3 separate regions of the Homo sapiens genome follow, and all the other regions are reported to be linked to region 2. The links are microRNA targets in miRTarBase. Many come from high-throughput screens and were not tested one by one. Region 2 holds a microRNA gene; each other region holds the end of a gene's coding sequence.
The links. The annotated mature microRNA hsa-miR-125a-5p reads UCCCUGAGACCCUUUAACCUGUGA and lies in region 2 at 3,210-3,233, shown strand. An mRNA with a match to its seed (bases 2 to 7 or 8) in the 3' UTR can be bound and repressed. Matches are read on the target gene's strand: a 7mer-m8 pairs with bases 2 to 8, a 7mer-A1 pairs with bases 2 to 7 and ends in A, and an 8mer does both.

Region 1 (6,011 bases), not on the chromosome of region 2:
TAGGAGGTGAGCAAGCAGAGTGTCCACTCCTCTCCTGAGGAAGCACAGGCTGGCACTGTAGGGTGCAAAGGGTTAATTTAAAGCTGGGGTTGTGGGTGATGGGAGAAATTCCAGCATGTTTAAATGCTGAGGGGGAAGGAGAGAAGAATGGGCAAGGAGAGGGCAGGGAAGAAGGAGGGTGCTAGGTGAAGTAGGAGGGAGGAGAGTCGGGCCCAGGTAGAAGGGCTGGGTTTCAACAGAAGTGGACATGTCATCTTTTTGTATTTTTTTTTATCAGAAAGAAAAAAAAATTACTAAGCTTGGTACAAAAACCAAGACACTGTTACATAAATCCTTACAGTTGGCTTACTGTTGAGTATTATTAAGCTCAGCATGAGGTTGTATTTACATGACCTTGCTATTTTAATATTGTATCCCTGAATGCATCAGATAGAACAACTCATATGCAGTCTTCCAAGATGTGTTTTTTTCTGAGATCATCAAAATCATAAGTACCTCTAGGTGAAAAAAATATAAGAGTATAAATTAGGATTCTTCAGCAGTACTTTTTATTTTTTTAATGGGTAATACATTCAGAAACCATTGTTTTCTTCCCTTTTTTTATATAAAATGTATCATATGATAGACTACCACGCCTTGCTTTTTTACTTACTATTGTATAACCTACAAATCATTACAAATCAGCTTATAGTTTCCGTATATACATATAATACATAAGGTACATATATATAACATAATGTCATACATAATGTGTGTGTGTAATGTGTAATATGGGTTGAGTATCCCTAATCCAAAATGTTCCAAAATCTGAAACTTTTTAATTGCCAACATTGCCACTGAAAGGAAATGCTCATTGGAGCACTTCAAATTTCAGATTTTCAGATTAGGGATGCTGAACTGGTAAGTATAATGGAAATATTTCAAAATCTGAAAAAATCCAAAATACTTCTGGTTTCAAGTATTTTGGATAAGGACTGCTCAACCTATATTTGGATAAGGACCGCTCAACCTATGTGTTACCATAATTCATGAGCCAGTCTACTTTGGACATTTGGGTTGTTGCCAGTATTTTGCTATTATAAGTAATGTTACAGTAAATAATTATATATATATATATATATATATATATATATATATATATATATATATATATATTTTTTTTTTTTTTTTACATGTGCATGAGTCTGTGTGTCAGACAAATGCCCAGAAGTGGAATTGCTGGGTCAGAGAACATAAGCATTTGGGATCTTGGTGTAGAGGCTGTCACATTTTCTCCTAGTGATGGGCTTATTTCACTAAAGCCATGTCCACAGCATGTAGTATCATCATACTTGGACTTTTGGCCCATCTAATAAGTGAAAAATTATATCTTTGTAATTTAATTTTAAATTATTTTATATAAATAATGTATTCACATAATTTGAAATTCAAGAAGTATAAAAGAGTATGCAATGAAAAGTCCCCCTGTTACCACCCCCTCCTGTCCTCAGCCATCTAGAACTCCTCCGAATCAGCCGTTCCTTATGTATCCTGCTAGAGATGTTTTGTGCCGGTGCAAGCAAACATATATATAGTTTTTTCCCTTTATTCAGAATGGTGGGATATATACACAGTGTTCTGTACTTTGCTTTTTTTTTTTTTAATCTATTTTTGGAATCAAAGAAACATAAAAGCCTTTTTTAAAAGAAGACTTGCTTGGTCCTTAGGTGAGCTGGACCCAGAAAGAATGGGCTCAGGTATTCAGTACGGAGATGCTGCCTTGAGACAGCTGAGGTCACCGCGGCGCGCACAGGCCCCGAACGCTCAGGAGTGTGGTTGTTAGGAGAGCACACAGGTGGGTTTGGACACCTCCCTGCCCTGAGTTCCTGGCAAGCTCAAGTGCAGAGGCCTGTTAAAGCTTTGGGAAGCTGCAGTATGAAAAAGAGGGGATCCCAGCCGGGTGCAGTGGCTCTAATTCCAGCACTTTGGGAGGCTGAGGTGGGCCAGTTGCTTTAGTTCAGGAGTTCGAGACCAGCCTAGGCATCATGGTGAAACATCATCTCTACAAAATACAAAAAATTAGCCAGGCGTGGTGGCGTGCACCTGTAGTCCCAGCTACTCATGAAACTTAGGAGAATTGCTTGAGCCTGGGAGGCGGAGGTTGCAGTAAGCCAAGATCATACCACTGCACTCCAGCCTGGGCGATAAAGTGAGAACTGTCTCAGAAAAAAAAAAAAGAGAAGGAGAAGAACCCATAAGTTAAAGTTGGATGTTCTAACTGAAAGAATTTATACTCTATAGGAAATTCTTATGCTCTTGTTCAGAAAGAAAGGAAGGGCAGGTGGTGGTTGATGGGAAGGGTGAGATATCCTGATTCCTTATGTCAGTGAGGAGCCCTTCCTGGATTGATTGAGGTCTAAATGAATGTGCCTTTTGCTAAAACAGGAGGCCTATTTATAAAATTGACAAATGTCTCCCTTTAACTTTTTAAAGCTTCTTCTTTTTTCCCATTTACCACAGTGGACGTTTTATTTATAGTCGACATCATGTAGTAGGCACAGGCAAGTGTTAAAAGACAAGATATTCACGAATTCTCTTTTAGGCTTTAAGCTGTATTTACTTTTGCATTTATAGTTATGCAGATTTTGAAATTGTTCTTAATATTTTTTAGGTGTTCATACAGTGGCATTTGGGACACAATCGTTGGAACCTGAAGAATCTGAAGTTTTTTTTACCACCATCTTTTTCTACTCTGTATGGAAGTAGATCTTTATGGGGAAAAGAGAATTTGGGGTGTTCTGCAAGCCAGTCAAAGTGGCACAGCAAATCATATAAATCGAATTAAATGGACAACACCGTTAGATGTGTATGTAAAAATTTTCTGTTTCATATTTTTCCTTTCACTTTCGGTTTAAAACATGCTATATGTACTGTATGTCCTGTAGCCCAGTGCGGCTCCACAGCATGGAATCTGATGTATGATATGATAGAATGTGGCACTAAATGCAGTTTCAGATTTTATTTTTTTTAATCATATGAACTAAAATTGTCAATTGTGAGGTGTGCTTTTCTCATCATGTTGGTTATATTGCACAATTGGTTATATTTATGACCTGATATTCAAAGACTCTGGCATTGATAGCCAGTGTGTTTTCTTATTTAACTCCGTTTACTACATTCTACATGGTGTTTACGTGATCCACACTTGAAATACTAGATCAGTAGACATTCACTAATATACCAAAATAAAATGAAAAATTGAGTTTTTCCGTGAACTTTATACTGTCCAGCTCTGTTGATTTTAAAGCCTCTTCATCCAGGTCAGTTCAGGAAGTATATCTGGAGTACCTGCTCTGTTTTTGGCTGTGAGACTAGCACTAAGGATTCTGGTACCTTTACCCAAACCTACTGGGCTACTAATACTTCTCTCAGCAGTTGATCAAATACAATAGACCATGTAAGCTGGGGCCGCTCATCCACTTCCAGTTTGCTGGTCTCCCTGCTAGAAAACACATTGTACTGTGCTTTTTCTGGAATTCAGTATAATGGCATCACTGCCTGTTTTTCACATCTTTTGTTTCCTGTTCATTTTAAGGAAACCTACTAAATCCAGTTAATATTAAATGGACACCACTCATTAAGAAATTTCTTTATGGCTTCTGCTGAATACTTAAATGCCTTACTACAGTTATCCAGTTGACATGTTTTTAATTCATATAAGGTATATTGGGTATATTGAAGTATATATTGTATTACAAAGACTTGTTCTTGTATTTTAAAATGTCAGTGCAAAAAATATATGGTGGAACCTTTCTTTAAAGTTGAAATGCAGTATTATTTAAATCTGAAAGGTTAAAAAGCTTTCTTCACCTTATATATGTTCTTCCACTGTGACTTTTTAGTTGAAGACTAGTAAATTAACTTTTAGTTAGAAGATGCCTACTGCTTTTGTTGTTTATTTTAATCAGCAGAGCACAGAGACACATAAAAACTCTGGGAAATGACTAGGATAAAAATATCAGTATGTATCTGTTTTAGATATTTTGAGTTTTGCTTTTTTTATGCCTTGAATATTTTATTTCAAAAAGTATCTGAAGCAAATTCTCAGACTGAACTACTTCTTAGACCTCACTGTAAGAATATTTTATTCAATGTCTCATTTATGATAGATTTGCAAGCTGCTCATTTTTGAACAGCTTTTTGCATGGGATAGGAGCATGTCTATTCTAACACATCAGCTTATTCAAAAGCAAGAATTTTAAAAATAAGATAAATGTAAAGTTGTTTTATAAACGATCCTGTTAATTAAACCACAGACACCATATATCCTTCTGCATCCTTTGGCCAATAAAAGTTGCTGGAGAACCAAACCATGGTGGTTCTTAATCAGGCTTTGCCTTTAGGGAGAATGAGGAGGAGAGATAATTGGGTATTGTTCAGGCTAGTAATAAATGTCATGTTTCTATTTCCCGCAACTCATTAAGTTTTCAGGAAGCTCTTAATTTAGATTTCTAGGAAAGTAATTATTCAGTCTTCCTAGAAAAAGATTATAAAGACCATTTAAACTGGAGATTGTAATTTATTCTTTTACAGTCCAGCATTTAAGTGAAAATGAGAACATCACAATTTGGGAATCTGTAATGGTTTTGTTGAAAACATTACTTGTGGCTTGTATAAGAGTGGCTGAATTCAAGAACATTGATTCTTAGCAGATCAATAATAGTATTTAAAGAATCTGATGCTAAAATTAGAAACCTAAATGATTTGTAATTTGTACTGTGACACAGCAGATGATGTTTCCTTATTTTCTGACATCTTTTTATGTTTTTGGAGAGGCACATTAGAGGTGCTTTAAAAAAAACCTGTGAATTTTTAATATTTTGTGGTGCCATTTGTGAAGCACCTCTTTCCTGATCCATCTAACTACTCCTGTACGTACAGTCTGAGTTTGTCCCACTTGTTGACTTGGTTACTTCCCTATTGTATTTATTTCTTTAAAGGGTTGTTTTAGAATTTTAGAGGAATTTATCTGAGAACACAAGATCTACCACTTTCAGTAGGACAAGTGACCCAAGTTGTTGGTCACCAGCCTCAAAGTTTAGAAAACACTACCTACTACCTACTGATAGAAAATAATGTGGTTAGGGAATCTGTTTTTTTCTTTTAAAAGAGCATTTATGTACTTTTTTCCTTCATATATCCCCCTCATTTTTTTTCTTTTTCTTTCTTTTTTTTTTAATTTTATTTTTTGTAGAGACAGGGAGGGTCTCACTGTGTTACCCAGGCTGGTCTCAAACTCCTGGCCTCAAGGGATCTTCCCACCTCAGCCTCCCAAAGTGCTGGGATTACAGGCATGAGCCACCATGCCTGGCCCCCCCCAGGTATAATATAATATAAATATAAATTTATATTATGAATTATATAGATTCTCCCTTTATATACTTATAAATTTTTTATAACAGATTTTCAAATGTAGAGAAAAATAGCCTAATGAACCACTATATCAGCCAGCTTTAACAATTGCCTACATTTTGCGATCTTGTTTTCTTTATCTTTACCCAGCGTTTTCATACTATGGTACTTGAAAACATCCGAGGCATCTGTCATTTCACCCAAAAATACTCAGGGCCGGGCGCGGTGGCTCACGCCTCTAATCCCAGCACTTTGGGAGGCTGAGGTGGGTGGATCACGAGGTCAGGAGTTCGAGACCAGCCTGGCCAACATGGTATAACCCCGTCTCTACTAAAAACACAAAAATTAGCCAGGCGTGGTGGTGGGCGCCTGTAGTCCCAGCTACTTGGGAGGCTGAGGTGGGAGAATTGCTTGAACCCAGGAGGCAGAGGTTGTAGTGAGCCAAGATCATGCCACTGTTCTCCAGCCTGGGCAACAGAGAAAGACTCCATCTAAAAAAAAATAAAAATAAAAAATAAAAAAAAAAAATTGGTCAGTATGCATCTTTGACAATAGCATTTTCTAAAAATTTTATGAAATTTCCATACCATTGGGAACTTAACAAAGCCAAGGCTATTTAT
Region 2 (6,011 bases):
ACAGGCCAGGGTCAGCGGCGGGGGCAGGAGATGTCTGGAGGAGGAGAGGCCCAGCATCCATGCTCCCTCGGGGACCCGGGATTCCAGGTCCCAGACCCCTCCTCCCTCAGATCTGGGAGTACACCACCCAGTCCCCCACCCATTCCAGAATCCGAGCCCCCAGCCCCCTTTTTTCCAGGATCCAGGAGTCTGAGCCCCCAGTCTGTTCTCTCAGACCAGGGAATCCACACTCCAGCCCCTAACTCCTTCAAAACCCCAGAGTTCAGAACCTCAGCCCCTCTTCCCAAGGAGCGCGGCCCCCAACCCTCTGTTCCTCTAGAACCCAAGCGTTCAGGCTCCGGCATCTTTCTCCCTTTGAAGCCTGCAGTTCTGGGGATCCCCAGGCCCCTCCTCCTCCGGAACCCAGGAGTCCCCACCTCCTCTTTAGCCCCAGCTGGAGTCCAGCCCTCCAGGGGTTAAGGGGGCGGGACCAGCTAGTTGCCATGGTGCCAGACTGTTTGGGTCTGCTCTCTGACCCTTGGGGGCTCCCCAGGGTCCGCAGAGAGGGGGAGGGGGACCTAGGCCTGGGGGAAGTCCAGAGCCTACCCCTTCCCCAAAGCGGGGCTATGGGCCCAGGGAGTTCGCGTTTCCACCAACGCCTTGTCCAGTGACCTTGAACAAGTCCTGACCCTTCTCTCTCCGCCTCAGTTTCCCCAAGGAGACACTGGTTGGCGGGTGGGGGAGATGCTTAGGTCCGGGGAATCTCTGAGATTCTCGGCTTCCCCTCTCCCCTCACCCTCCTCCTCAGGCCCCAGGCAGCCCCGGGGCATGCTGGGAACCCAGGCCTGGGCTCCGGGCCAGGTTGGTGTGGGGGGGTGGGGGCGGGGGCAGCCTCCTCCCTTCCCCTTCCTCCCCACCTTGGCCTGACTCTCGCCCCCGCCTGAGGGTCTGGGAGGTTGGGAAGGAGGGAAGGGGGAAGAGAGCTGGCCGTAGACCCGTCTCCGGCCCCCGCCTCCCCCTTTCCTCCTCCGCCCCTTTCCCGCCTCTCCTCCCCCTCCTCAGGTCGCTACCCCAGCCCTGGGCCCCTTCTCAAACCACCCCCACCCCACCCCCAGCTCCAGACCTGGCTCGAGCTGCGAGGGGGAGGGAGAGAGGGAAGGAGAAAAGAGAGAGAGAGAAGGGAGGGAGACCCAAAGAGAGAAGGGGGAGGGGAGGAAAGAGAGAGACCTAAGAGGGAGGGAAGGAGAGAGAGAGGGAGAGAGACAGAGACTGAGAGAGAGCAGGAGACGGAGGTGAGGGATGGAGAGAGGGAAGGGGCGGAGGGAGAGGAAGTGAGGAAAGACATCCGAAAAAAGGGGGTGGAGAAGGGTGAGAAAGAGGAGAGAGACTGAGAGAGGGCCAGAGAGAGAATGAGAGAGACAAAGAGGGGGAAGGGGGAGAAGGGGAGGATGAAAGACAGAAGGTAGAGGAAAAGCAGGAGAAAGAGGGGGAGAGAAGGAAGAAAACAGAAGCGGGGAGAGGAGAGAGGCGATGGGCAGAGAGAGAAGCCAGCGCAGAGCCAGGGAGGGATGTCCTGATGCAGGAGGAGGCTGGGAACCAGGGAAGGTGGAAAGAAAGAGGGAGAGAGAAAAAGGCAGGGCCAGAGAGACCTGGACTGCGAGAAAGGAACCGGAAGGTGCGCCTGGAGCAGGGGCAGCGAGAACCAGACAGTCCAGGAGGAGGGGCTGGGCACGGGAGAGACCCCAGCTGGAGGGGCTCAGAGCCCAGGGGTGGGGAGGGTGGGTGCTGGGTCCCGGGGTCCAGAAGCTGGAGAAGGCTGGGGACACCTCCTGGATTCAAGAGGGAGGACAGAGATGGGGCTGGGCAGACTTTGGGAGCCTCTTCCCCTCTCTGAGGCTCAGCCCCCTCACCTGCCAAATGGGGATGCTGAGGGCACCTCGCTCTCTGGAGTGGGAGGTGTCAGGGAGAGGACTGGTGCTCAGGGCCTGGTATGGGGTCAGCGCTGGGAGATTGTGGCTGTCATAGTTGTAAATGACCCAAAGAAGGGAGGAGAGAGGAAAGAAAGCACCTAGGGAGGCTCTGATGGTTGGCTAGCCCCTGGCCTCCTTAGCCCTGGGCCTGGAGTCTCTGCAGACTGACAGGAGGGTAGGTAGGAAGCAGGTGTGCCCAAAGGGCCAAATTACGAGACAAATGAGGTTCCCTCCCAGCCGGCACCCAGGAAGCCAGGTTTTCTATCAGGCCATGCCTTCCCCAGGAGGCCTGCCTGGCCGGAGGGAGGAGGGGCTGGGGGCAGGGACTCCTGGGTCTCTGGGGAGAAGGAGGCTTTGGATCTGGACTCATGAGTCTGAGGGAGGAAGGGGCTGAGTCCTTGGATTCCAGGAACATTTGGGGAGAAAAGGGCCAGAGGCCTGGATTCCTGGGTCTGTGGTGAGGAAGGGCCTAGACTTCTGGGTTCTTTAGGGAGGAGGGGGATGAGAGCCTTGACTCCAGGGTCCCTGATGAGGAAGGGGCTGAGGGCCTGGACTCCTGGGTTCCTTGGGGAGGAGGGGCCGGGGGCCCGGACTCCTGGGTCCTGGCACCCACCCGTAGAACCGACCTTGCGGGGCCTTCGCCGCACACAAGCTCGTGTCTGTGGGTCCGTGTCGGGGGCTCACCATCGCGGCTGGGGCCTCCCCGGCCCTCCCCCTCATCCCTGGTCCTCCTGGTCCCTGTCTGTCTGTCTGTCGGGTCTGTCCACCTGCCGCGCCCCCCGGGCTGAGGTAGGAGGTTGTATAGTTGAGGAGGACACCCAAGGAGATCACTATACGGCCTCCTAGCTTTCCCCAGGCTGCGCCCTGCACGGGACGGGGCCCGGCGGGGACCCCCAGCCCCACTCAGGGACCCTTAGCCCCACTGGGCTGCCCCAGGGACCCTGGGAGGAAGAGCCGGGCTCTTTTCTGTCCTTGTCCCTGCATCCCCTCCTTCCCCTGAAATCTGTTTTCCTTCCCTGTCTGTCTCCATCTCTGCTGTGTCTCTGTGGCTTCTGTGTCTCTTTCACAGTGGATCCTCTGACTCCCTCTTATTCTGGCTTTCTAGGTCTCTGCCCCTCCCGATATCTCTCTGTGTCTCTATTTCTGTCGTTTTTGGTCTTTCTGTCTCTGGCTCTCAGAATGTCTCTGTGCCTATCTCCATCTCTGACCCCCACCCCAGGGTCTACCGGGCCACCGCACACCATGTTGCCAGTCTCTAGGTCCCTGAGACCCTTTAACCTGTGAGGACATCCAGGGTCACAGGTGAGGTTCTTGGGAGCCTGGCGTCTGGCCCAACCACACACCTGGGGAATTGCTGGCCTGACTTCTGACCCCTGACTCCTCATACCCTTCCTCCAGAGCATGACATTTGACCACCAACTGAAACCTGACCTCTGACCCCAGACCACTGGCCCTTCCCCCGCCCTGTGGTGACTTCATAAAGGTTACTAGCTTCTCCCCTGGCCTTGAGACCCACACGATGGCCCTGCTGGCTCTGGCCAGTGCCGTCCCGTCTGCCCTGCTGGCCCTGGCTGTCTTCAGGGTGCCCGCCTGGGCCTGTCTCCTCTGCTTCACAACCTACTCTGAGCGCCTCCGCATCTGCCAGATGTTTGTTGGGATGCGGAGCCCCAAGCTTGAAGAGTGTGAGGAGGCCTTCACGGCCGCCTTCCAGGGCCTCTCTGACACCGAAATCAGTGAGGAGACCATCCACACTTCATCAGTGTCCTGGGGAAGGTGCAGAGGGAGGGCAGGAGAGGCCCAGAGGGTCAGGCTGAGGGACAGACAGAGAGAAACAGTCAGAGGAGAAAGGCTCAAAGACCATGAGAACAACAGAGACTTAGGGACAGAGAGACACAGACAGGGGAAGACAGCAGGGCAAAGACTCAGAGAGGGGAGGATGGAGAGTCAGAGAGGGGAAGATGGAGACTCAGAGAGGGGGAGGATGGAGACTCAGAGAGAGAGGAAGATGGAGACTCGGAAAGATGGAGACTCAGGAGTATGGAGAGTCAGAGAGGGGAGGATGGACACTCGGGAGGATGGAGAGTCAGGAGGATGGAGACTCATAGAAAGGGGAGGATGGAGAGTCAGGAGAGGTTGGAGACTGGAGAGGGAATAGAGACCCAGAGAGGGGAGGATGGAGACTCAGAGGGTGGAAGATGGAGACTCAAAGAGGATGGAAACCCAGAGAGAGGAGGACAGAGATGAGGCAGAGACTAGGGGAAGCAGGATAGCGACTGGTCGGGGGCAGAGACTCAGGGAGGATAGAGACTTGGGAGGGACTCAGGAAGCATAGCGACTGTGGGGCAAAGAGTCAGAGAGGGGAGGATACAGACTTGGGAGGGCAGAGACTCAGAAACAGAATGTTCGCATTAGGGACATGGTGTTGCGGGGAGCTGCCTCCCCCAGCCCCTGCTCCCTCCCTCACCGCCAGACTATGATGAGAGAAGCCACCTGCATGACACCTTCACCCAGATGACCCATGCCCTGCAGGAGCTGGCTGCTGCCCAGGGTGAGTGTGTGGGGATGGGGAGATGGGAGATGTGGACTTGGAGCCCCTAAGAAATGGGTATGTGGGAGGGCCCAGGGCAGAGGAAGGAGGCCCCCAGAGTTGGGCAGTGATCCGGGAGGGGAAAGCTGGGAAGACATTGAGCTCAGCTACTTGTCCAAACGAAGGCTGAAGGCAGCTCTAAGAGCCAGGGGCTGAAGGTGGTGAGGGGGAAGGGACGCTGCAGAAATTGCCTAGAGCTGGAAGTCCAGATGGGGTCGGGTAGGCATAGGTTCTGCCATGGCTGCATGGCTCACACTCTTACTGGCTATGAAGTTCTGGGTGTGTCACTGCCCCTCTCCTGGCCTCAACTTACCCATCTGTAAAGTGGGACAATCTTCTTGCCTCCTAGGATGGCCATGGAGCTCAGTGCAGGGGTTGGGGCTGCCTGATGAGCCTGATCTTAGGGAAGGCATCTTCCTCTAGGATAGAACACACACACACTCGCACACAGACACGCTCAGAGACATACACTCACACTCACACACACACACAGATTTCTTATAAAGTGATTCCACATTTTTGAGGTGTGAGGCAATTAGAGGGCGGGAAAACAGGAACAGCAGAGTGGATCACTCAGGTGACAGCAGTGAAAAGAGACAAGGTGTGACTGTCCTGGTGAGACAGGCACATGTGACAGCCTTGAGGTGTGTGGCTGTGCGAAGAGACCTCAGGGCTGGGGGCCACGCAATGCCGATGGGCAGCATGGGCGGTAATCATGCCTGATCACCATGGCCATGATCCCCACGAGGTGCCAGACCCTGGAACTGTGGAGGCTCGGAGTTGCAGGAGTTACAGAGCCCTGCGCTATAGAATAAACTGGCTTCCTCTTAGGTCCAGGAGCTCAGGGCTTATTCCCACACCCACAGTCGCTCCTTTTGCTTCCTGCTTTGCCCTCCAAGCGTCCTGTCAACAATCCCGGAAGAGGGAAGGTTCCCATCCACCCAGGGGGCATCCAGGGCCAGCCTGGAGAAGGCCTCAGCTGTGGCTCTCCCCATCTCCACCCTAAAGGGAGACCTGAGGCCCTAAACCTCTCCATGTGGGGGTGTGCAGGATTCCAAGAAATGCCCTTTCTCCCCACATAGGCTGCCTTGTTACAGAAGCTTTTGAAAAGATGAGGAACCTTTGGATCTGGGAATGGAAGCCTTCTGTGGGGCCGCATGGGGGACAAACTTGGAGGGGAGAGAGAAGAGGCTGGGTGAGGGTCCAGGCCAGAGCGGAGGCCCGAGTGGGGGCTGGGGCCGTGAAGGTGGAGAAGGGCCAGGGCCAGAGAGTTAGGTCTGCTGGGCTGTTTTGGGAAGCATAGAGAACAGCATCTGAGACAGGTCCTGCTCTGTGCCTGTTGGGCGGTGGGTCATCACCGAAATAAGGAGCCTGAGAGAAAGAGCCGGGGGCAGATGATAAGCTGGGTTAGAAGGCAGTGACTTTGAGGGGTCCCAGGGACGTTTAGGAGGCAGCTAGATACCTAGGTGCAGAGT
Region 3 (6,011 bases), not on the chromosome of region 2:
GATCCAGTTAACGAGTCAGAACTCTTCTCCCAATCAGCAGAGAACCCCGCAGGTCATCGGGGTCATGCAGAGTCAAAACAGCAGCGCGGGCAACCGGGGACCCCGGCCACTGGAGCAGGTCACCTGTTACAAGGTGAGTCCCTGGGCTGGGGGACAGGGTGGGGTCTTCCCTTACCGTCAGTGGCCATTCCCTCATGCCCCATGTGTTTGGTGAAATGAGAAAAATGAAAACATTCATTTTTGCTGATTGTAAGCATAAAGTTACAGTCTAGTTACCATCCACTGTGGTGGGCTAGAGACTGTCCTATTTCCTACCACACTGCACTGAGGCACGGTAAAGGATGGTGAGAACGCCTGCCTAGTGAATGGACGGGGCCTGCAGGCAGGTGAGGGAAGCCCCCAAGAGGCCGGGAACAAAATAGAAACACTGATCCAGGGAAGGGTGAGCCCTTGGAGCCGCTGGCTGTCCTGGGGGCATCCTTGGATCCTGCAGGGCACACCCGAGAAAACAGGACACTGGGTTACAGCACCCCTGTCCCCATCCCCTCCCCCAGTACATAAAATGGGACTCAGGAAGGGTGAGCTTCAAGAAACCTCCTCGAAAACTGTCCTGTTCACTCCTGGCTCTGTGGGAAGCGGGGAAAGGGGAGGAAAATCTCTTGATAGTTTGACGTTATTAATGGGCCCTTATGTGAGTCTAGGCCTGTATTCATGTCCTTGGTTAAGGCTGGAAAGTTACAAACTAAGTTTTCTAATCTAAAATCGCCCCAGGATTGGTGTGTCCCTGGCACGTGGCAGGAGTAACCCCCAGTACTCTTTGAAGAGTATGTTCTCAACCCAAGGCGCACACAATTCCTACAGCTGGAGTTCTGAAGAATGAGTCCAGATTAAAAATCACAAAACAGGCTGGGTGTGGTGGTGCACGCCTGTAGTCCCAGCTACTGGGGAGGCTTAGATGGGAGGATTGCTTGGGCCCAGGAGGTCAAGCCTGCAGTGAGCTATGACTGCACCACTGCACTCCAGCCTGGGCAACAGACTGAGACTCTTTGTCTCCAAAAAAATAAAAGAGCATGGAAGTGGGGCACTGTGTAGAGCAGACTTAGCTGTTATCTTGCCACCCTCCAGGCCTGTTAAGCGGGGCCACTTCTGTGCAGCAAGCGCCCTTAAGTCCTGGAGCCTTAGAAAGGTAGGGCTGACCGCCCCTGTCCACAGCCTGTCACCCCATTAATGTCAGAGACACTTCATGTAAGTCCTGGATTCCCCAGAGTCAGCTGTGGGGTCCGACAGACATGCCAGATGCCGTGAGCAGGGTGTGTGGTCCCTCCCCCAGCCATCATGTTAGCCCTACAGCCCATCGGCAGCCTCTCCATACAGAGTCACACCTGCAGATCAGACAAAGTTGAAAACACAGGGACAGCTGGGTGCGGTGGCTCACGCCTGTAATCCCAGCACTTTGGGAGGCCGAGGGGAGCAGGTCACAAGGTCAGGAGTTCGAGACCATCCTGGCCAACATAGAAGAAAGAAAACAGGAATTGCAGAGCCAGGGAATAGAGCTGGCAAGAGTGTTGGGTGCCAACTGGGCAGAGCCCCTCAGGGCAGCAGGGACTCAGGGGTGGGTGTCAGTACAGAGTCAGTGCCCCCAGCTGCCTCCTGACCCTTTTGTTCAGTGCTTGAGGCTGCCGTTTTAGGAGTCATAGAGTAAAGAGAAGCTATGGAAGGGCCTGGATAATCAGGACTGGGATGAGGCAGGGTCAGGGCTGGATTTGTCATGTGGCTCTGCAGGCTCCCCTTACCCAAGTCTAAGCATCGTCCCATCTCTCTGATCCTGTAATCAAAACCTGTCCCCAAGGTAGCTTAGGTGTGTCACAGCCACGAGGGAAAACGTTGGGTACAGCCCACCCTCTGTCCCCAGCAGTGGCTCCCCAAGGGAGGGGAGGCTGGGACACTTCTGATGCTGTTCCCTCCCATCTCCTGCCAGGGAACCCCAGACCTTGGCTCAGAGGTAAGTGACTGGCCTGTGGTGCAGAAGGGCTTGGTCCCCAGACGGGGTGGCGGAGCTCAGGTGCCACGGGCTTCTCTTTGTCCTGCTACCCACTTGGGAGTCCCTCCCTGGGCAGGCCATGTGTCCAGGTGGGAGAGTTGTGGGCCTGAAAGAGCAGGTCGCTAGCAGGTCGCCTTCTGGCGGCCTTGTTCTCCCTTGCATCTGCGGAGTTGCTGGCTAGTTTCTGCACCACTGCACTTTCCATCCTGAGCTCCCTCACCCTCTAATTTGAAAGAAACTCTGTACCACTGAGAATTTCAGAGTCATGTCCCGACTGGGGACTTGGTGGATGATTTGGGATTTGGTGGGCACTCCCTTAGTTGAAAACTGCATTTGAACAGTGTTGTTGTCTGTCTCTCCTCTTCCCCCACTTCCTGCTGTTCCCAGTGTGGCGAGAAAGGACACTACGCCAACAGATGCACCAAAGGGCACTTGGCCTTTCTCAGTGGACAGTGACAGCAGCTGGAGCCAGCTCCGAGCAGCCCGGGGGCCCCGCTGTTGGGAGTGTGCATTTAACTGTTTCATGCGCTTGTTGGCGCGACTGTGGCTCGAGCTGGCCCGCAGACACGTGGGTTTCATCACTCTGAGGGGCCACGTCTGTTAGTTTCCTATCATTTTGCCTTAGTATTTTTTGAAAAAGGGACATGTGTCCTGTGGGTCCCTGCAGTCGACATCATGTTTGGCTGGGCATCGATGCCTCCTTTCTGGGACTCCCGGCACAACTCCCCTCATCCAGGGAGGGAGGCAGCTGCTGGGGAGGGGCTTGGCTAGGTAGTTCTGTGTGGCGGTGGTCATTCCCCTCATTAAACACCAGTTCTTGGTGACGCCAGGGGCTGGTAGGTCATTCAAAGCTGTGGCCAGCTCACGCCTGCTTCCTCCCTCCCTGCCCTGCTGAATCCTAAAGCTGTGCCTATATCTGTGATTTGAATGAGGGAGCCCTTTGGGGCAAATTCAGGTGCCCCCATTGCCTCAGGCTGGCCCTGGTCCCAGGTGGCAGCGGTTGAGGAGGGGTACAGGGCTCTCAAGCCTGAGGTTTTCTTCTCTGGGCTTAATTTTCTCTTGGGGTACGTGCCTGACAGTGTTTAAGGTGTCCGTTGAACTGGAGTTGCAGACTTTTAAATAGATGACCCCTTCAGATCATCTGTGCCTACCTCCTGCCCATCAGGCGTCTACACTGTCACTCAGACACCTGTGGCATGTGGAGGAGACTGCCCTGTCCTGAGCCTGGAAAATGTGAAACTGTCTCCTGCAACCTGCTGGGCATGTGGGCCTGGCTGTGTTCAATTGCAAGAACAATTTTTATGAAATGGATTAAAGCTTGTTTTTTAAGCCATGTCTCATTAATTAAGGGTCTCATGCCAACCCTTTTACACTGGCTGCAATCACGGCGTAGCTTTCTTGTCCCTTTCAACAAATGTCAGCCTCACAAAGGGAAGTGCAGCTGCCCAGAAGGCCTGCAAGCAGCTGGTCAAGTCTGGGAGTCTGATCTGTGGAGCCAGCAGGCAGGTCCTCCACCTCAGCTCAGATGTCTGGTGGCACCTATTTCTGGGGCACAGTATCCCACCCCCAATGAGGCTCTGATGAAGAGGAAGCAGGGAGGGGCCGCCATAGCCCCTCACTTTTCCCCATCACCCCCAACCCACTAAGCCTCCTGTTAGAGAAGCCGCCTCAGCCGGAGGGCCACAATCCCTGCAGCCTGGGCGTGAGTGCTGCCTGAGGTCTCTCCAGACAGTGCCGGGTCACCTCACCCTGTAGCCCTTGATGCCCCAGGGTGATGCAGAAACACAGGATGCGGGCCATCCCTGCCTGGAGCCACAGGACAGCCGGGGTGGGATCTGGCGCTCTCAGGTACGCAAGCCTTTGTGTTACACCATAAAGGGCCAGCCAACTAAAGGCCAGAATGTCTGCAAATGCACCTGCCCACAGCACTCATGGCAAGGGACGGACTTCGGCACTGCTGCTTCGGGAAGGTCTGGATGACACCCTGCCCTCCAGGGAGCTGGGACACGACCAGAGTGGTGGTCTGGGAAGTCCACAAAGGCCTTCACCGGTCAACGGCCTGGAAAGACGACCTCCCCCCACCTTGTGCCACAGGAGCCCCTGGAACATGGGATAATGGCTACGGCAGACAGGCAGGCAATCAGCACACGTACCAGTCATGTTTTATTTGGAGGTTAATTCCTATTAGGATATGAAAGGATTCAGCAACGATTGAGATTGTGTTCCTCACGGAGGGGCTCGGGCCAAGGTCGTGGGGTGGGGGGGTGCAGAGTGTGTCCTCTTCAGTGGTATTTGCGGAGCCGCTCGTGCTCTGAAGTCAGGAAGGCAAGATGGTAAGTATCTTAAAAGGTTACAGTGAAGGCACAGCATGGCAGGAAGCAGGCTGAGATCACACAAAGCCTTCCTGAGAATTCCCTTCAGAGATGACCCATGACCCGCCTGCCGGTGTCTCTGCAGAATCAGCAGACCCGGGGGGCACAAAGACACCTCAGGAGCCAACCTGCCACCTGGCCAACCACTTTCTTTCCAGAAGGAACAGAGGGAACACACGCTCAGACAAACAGCCCCAGAGAACCCGTCCTTCAGAGGCAGGACCGCCCTGGTGCCACAGAATGGGAGTGAGGTGGGGGTAGGGGGTGTACACTACACTGTCAGAAACAGCCTAGTCAGAGGCTGCCACCGACACCTCCCGCCAATCTCCCACCAGACAAGCTCCTCTCAAGCCTCAGAGCCGGAACAGCCATGCTTTTCTGGGGTACCAGATTATCCCACTCAACTCATTTCTCTTTCTGCATTGGCTACTAGGAAAATCGAGCCAAATTTTCACAGTGTGCTGTATTTTAAAGAATGCTTCTAAGTACTCTCTTTACCCTGGCTTCATCTTGATTTTCCTGTGTTCTCTTTGTCACAATTTTCTCATTTCAAACAATATCCCACATACTGTACTCTGATAGGTCCCTCCAATTCTTTTAGGTGGAAACATAAGGAACTTTAACTAAAGGTCCCTCAGCCTCAGAAGAAGGTGGGCTGCTGTATCTAATGAAATCAGTCACCACCACCCTCTCATGGGAACTAAAGGCAAGACGCCGCAGAGGCACTCACTGAGATGCTTGTAGGAAAAGGAGTAGCTAAAGAGCACGTAGCATGCCAGCACCATGGTAATCCCCGAGATGCTCCCCTTCTTCACATTGATGTACTTGTTGTAGTACCGGTAGTAACCTGCAAACGCAAGAGGCGCTCACTGCCCTGCTGGGCTTCACATTTGAGTGAAGTTGAGCACACAGTTGAGTCTGGCTGACATTCAGGGACCTAGTCCTGCTCTGGCTGTTTAAGCCCCTCGCCCTGCATTCACTGGCTGATAAAGATGACAAGCACAAATGCCAGTAAGGTCTCTCATCCCCATAGCCTGAACTATAAGCACATACCAGCTCCTGAACTAGGCCTACCTGGATTCCACCTCTCCCCTTTGGCTGTGAGCTTATAGCCTCCTGAGTAGCTGGGACTACAGGCATGCACCACCACAGCCAGCTAATTTTTCTTGTGTGGTTTTTTTTATAGAGATGGGGTCTCTCCATATTGCCTAGGCTGGTCTAAACTCGGCTCAAGCAATCCTCCAGCCTTGGCCTCCCGAAGTGCCGGGATTACAGGCATAAGCCACCACACCAGGCCAAGATAGGCCATTTCAAATATTTGTCCTGAAGTTCTGGCAGGGAGGAGAGCATCATATTATAGACTAATGCCCACTACGGTTCCAATTCATTTTCCTCTTAAAGAAGTCTTAGGATTTCTCTAAGACAGAGGCAGACATACTGATTCCAAGCAACAGGAAACATGTTCTTGGCTGTAATATCTCAGAGCCAGCCTTTGAAAGGGCCAATCAACCACAGAAGTCCAAGGCCTAGCATCCCTCCCTGTCATCCTCTACATAACTTACTGCTTTCAGACAACAAGGCCTTCATTGCCCAAATTA

Region 1: the mRNA of RAB4A is a reported target of hsa-miR-125a-5p. The part of its 3' UTR that is shown has no 7-base or 8-base seed match.
Region 3: miRTarBase lists ATP5MF as a target of hsa-miR-125a-5p. The part of its 3' UTR that is shown has no 7-base or 8-base seed match.

What each region holds. Positions count from the first base shown.
Region 1 is chr1:229,301,156-229,307,166 of GRCh38, forward strand. RAB4A (RAB4A, member RAS oncogene family) reads left to right here. Exons shown (of 8, transcript NM_004578.4): 7 at 1,707-1,834; 8 at 2,651-4,739. The coding sequence ends at 1,822. Among named protein-coding and RNA genes, the nearest start is that of RAB4A-AS1, 33 kb to the left of the region's middle.
Region 2 is chr19:51,690,059-51,696,069 of GRCh38, forward strand. MIR125A (microRNA 125a) reads left to right here and starts at 3,196; the gene lies at 3,196-3,281. It overlaps SPACA6 (sperm acrosome associated 6), which reads left to right and starts at 3,272. Exons shown (of 9, transcript NM_001316972.2): 1 at 3,272-3,682; 2 at 4,420-4,497. The coding sequence starts at 3,469. SPACA6-AS1 (SPACA6 antisense RNA 1) reads right to left here and starts at 3,398. Exons shown (of 2, transcript NR_108100.1): 1 at 2,576-3,398. MIR99B (microRNA 99b) reads left to right here and starts at 2,554; the gene lies at 2,554-2,623. It also overlaps MIRLET7E. RefSeq lists enhancers at 1-737, 274-373, 738-1,547.
Region 3 is chr7:99,454,004-99,460,014 of GRCh38, forward strand. ATP5MF (ATP synthase membrane subunit f) reads right to left here. Exons shown (of 4, transcript NM_004889.5): 3 at 5,144-5,260; 4 at 4,192-4,352. The coding sequence ends at 4,324. All of the region lies in intron 2 of ATP5MF-PTCD1 (ATP5MF-PTCD1 readthrough), which reads right to left. It overlaps CPSF4 (cleavage and polyadenylation specific factor 4), which reads left to right. Exons shown (of 8, transcript NM_006693.4): 7 at 1-133; 8 at 2,429-3,370. The coding sequence ends at 2,497. Among named protein-coding and RNA genes, the nearest start is that of ATP5MF, 9.2 kb to the right of the region's middle. RefSeq lists an enhancer at 1,719-2,521.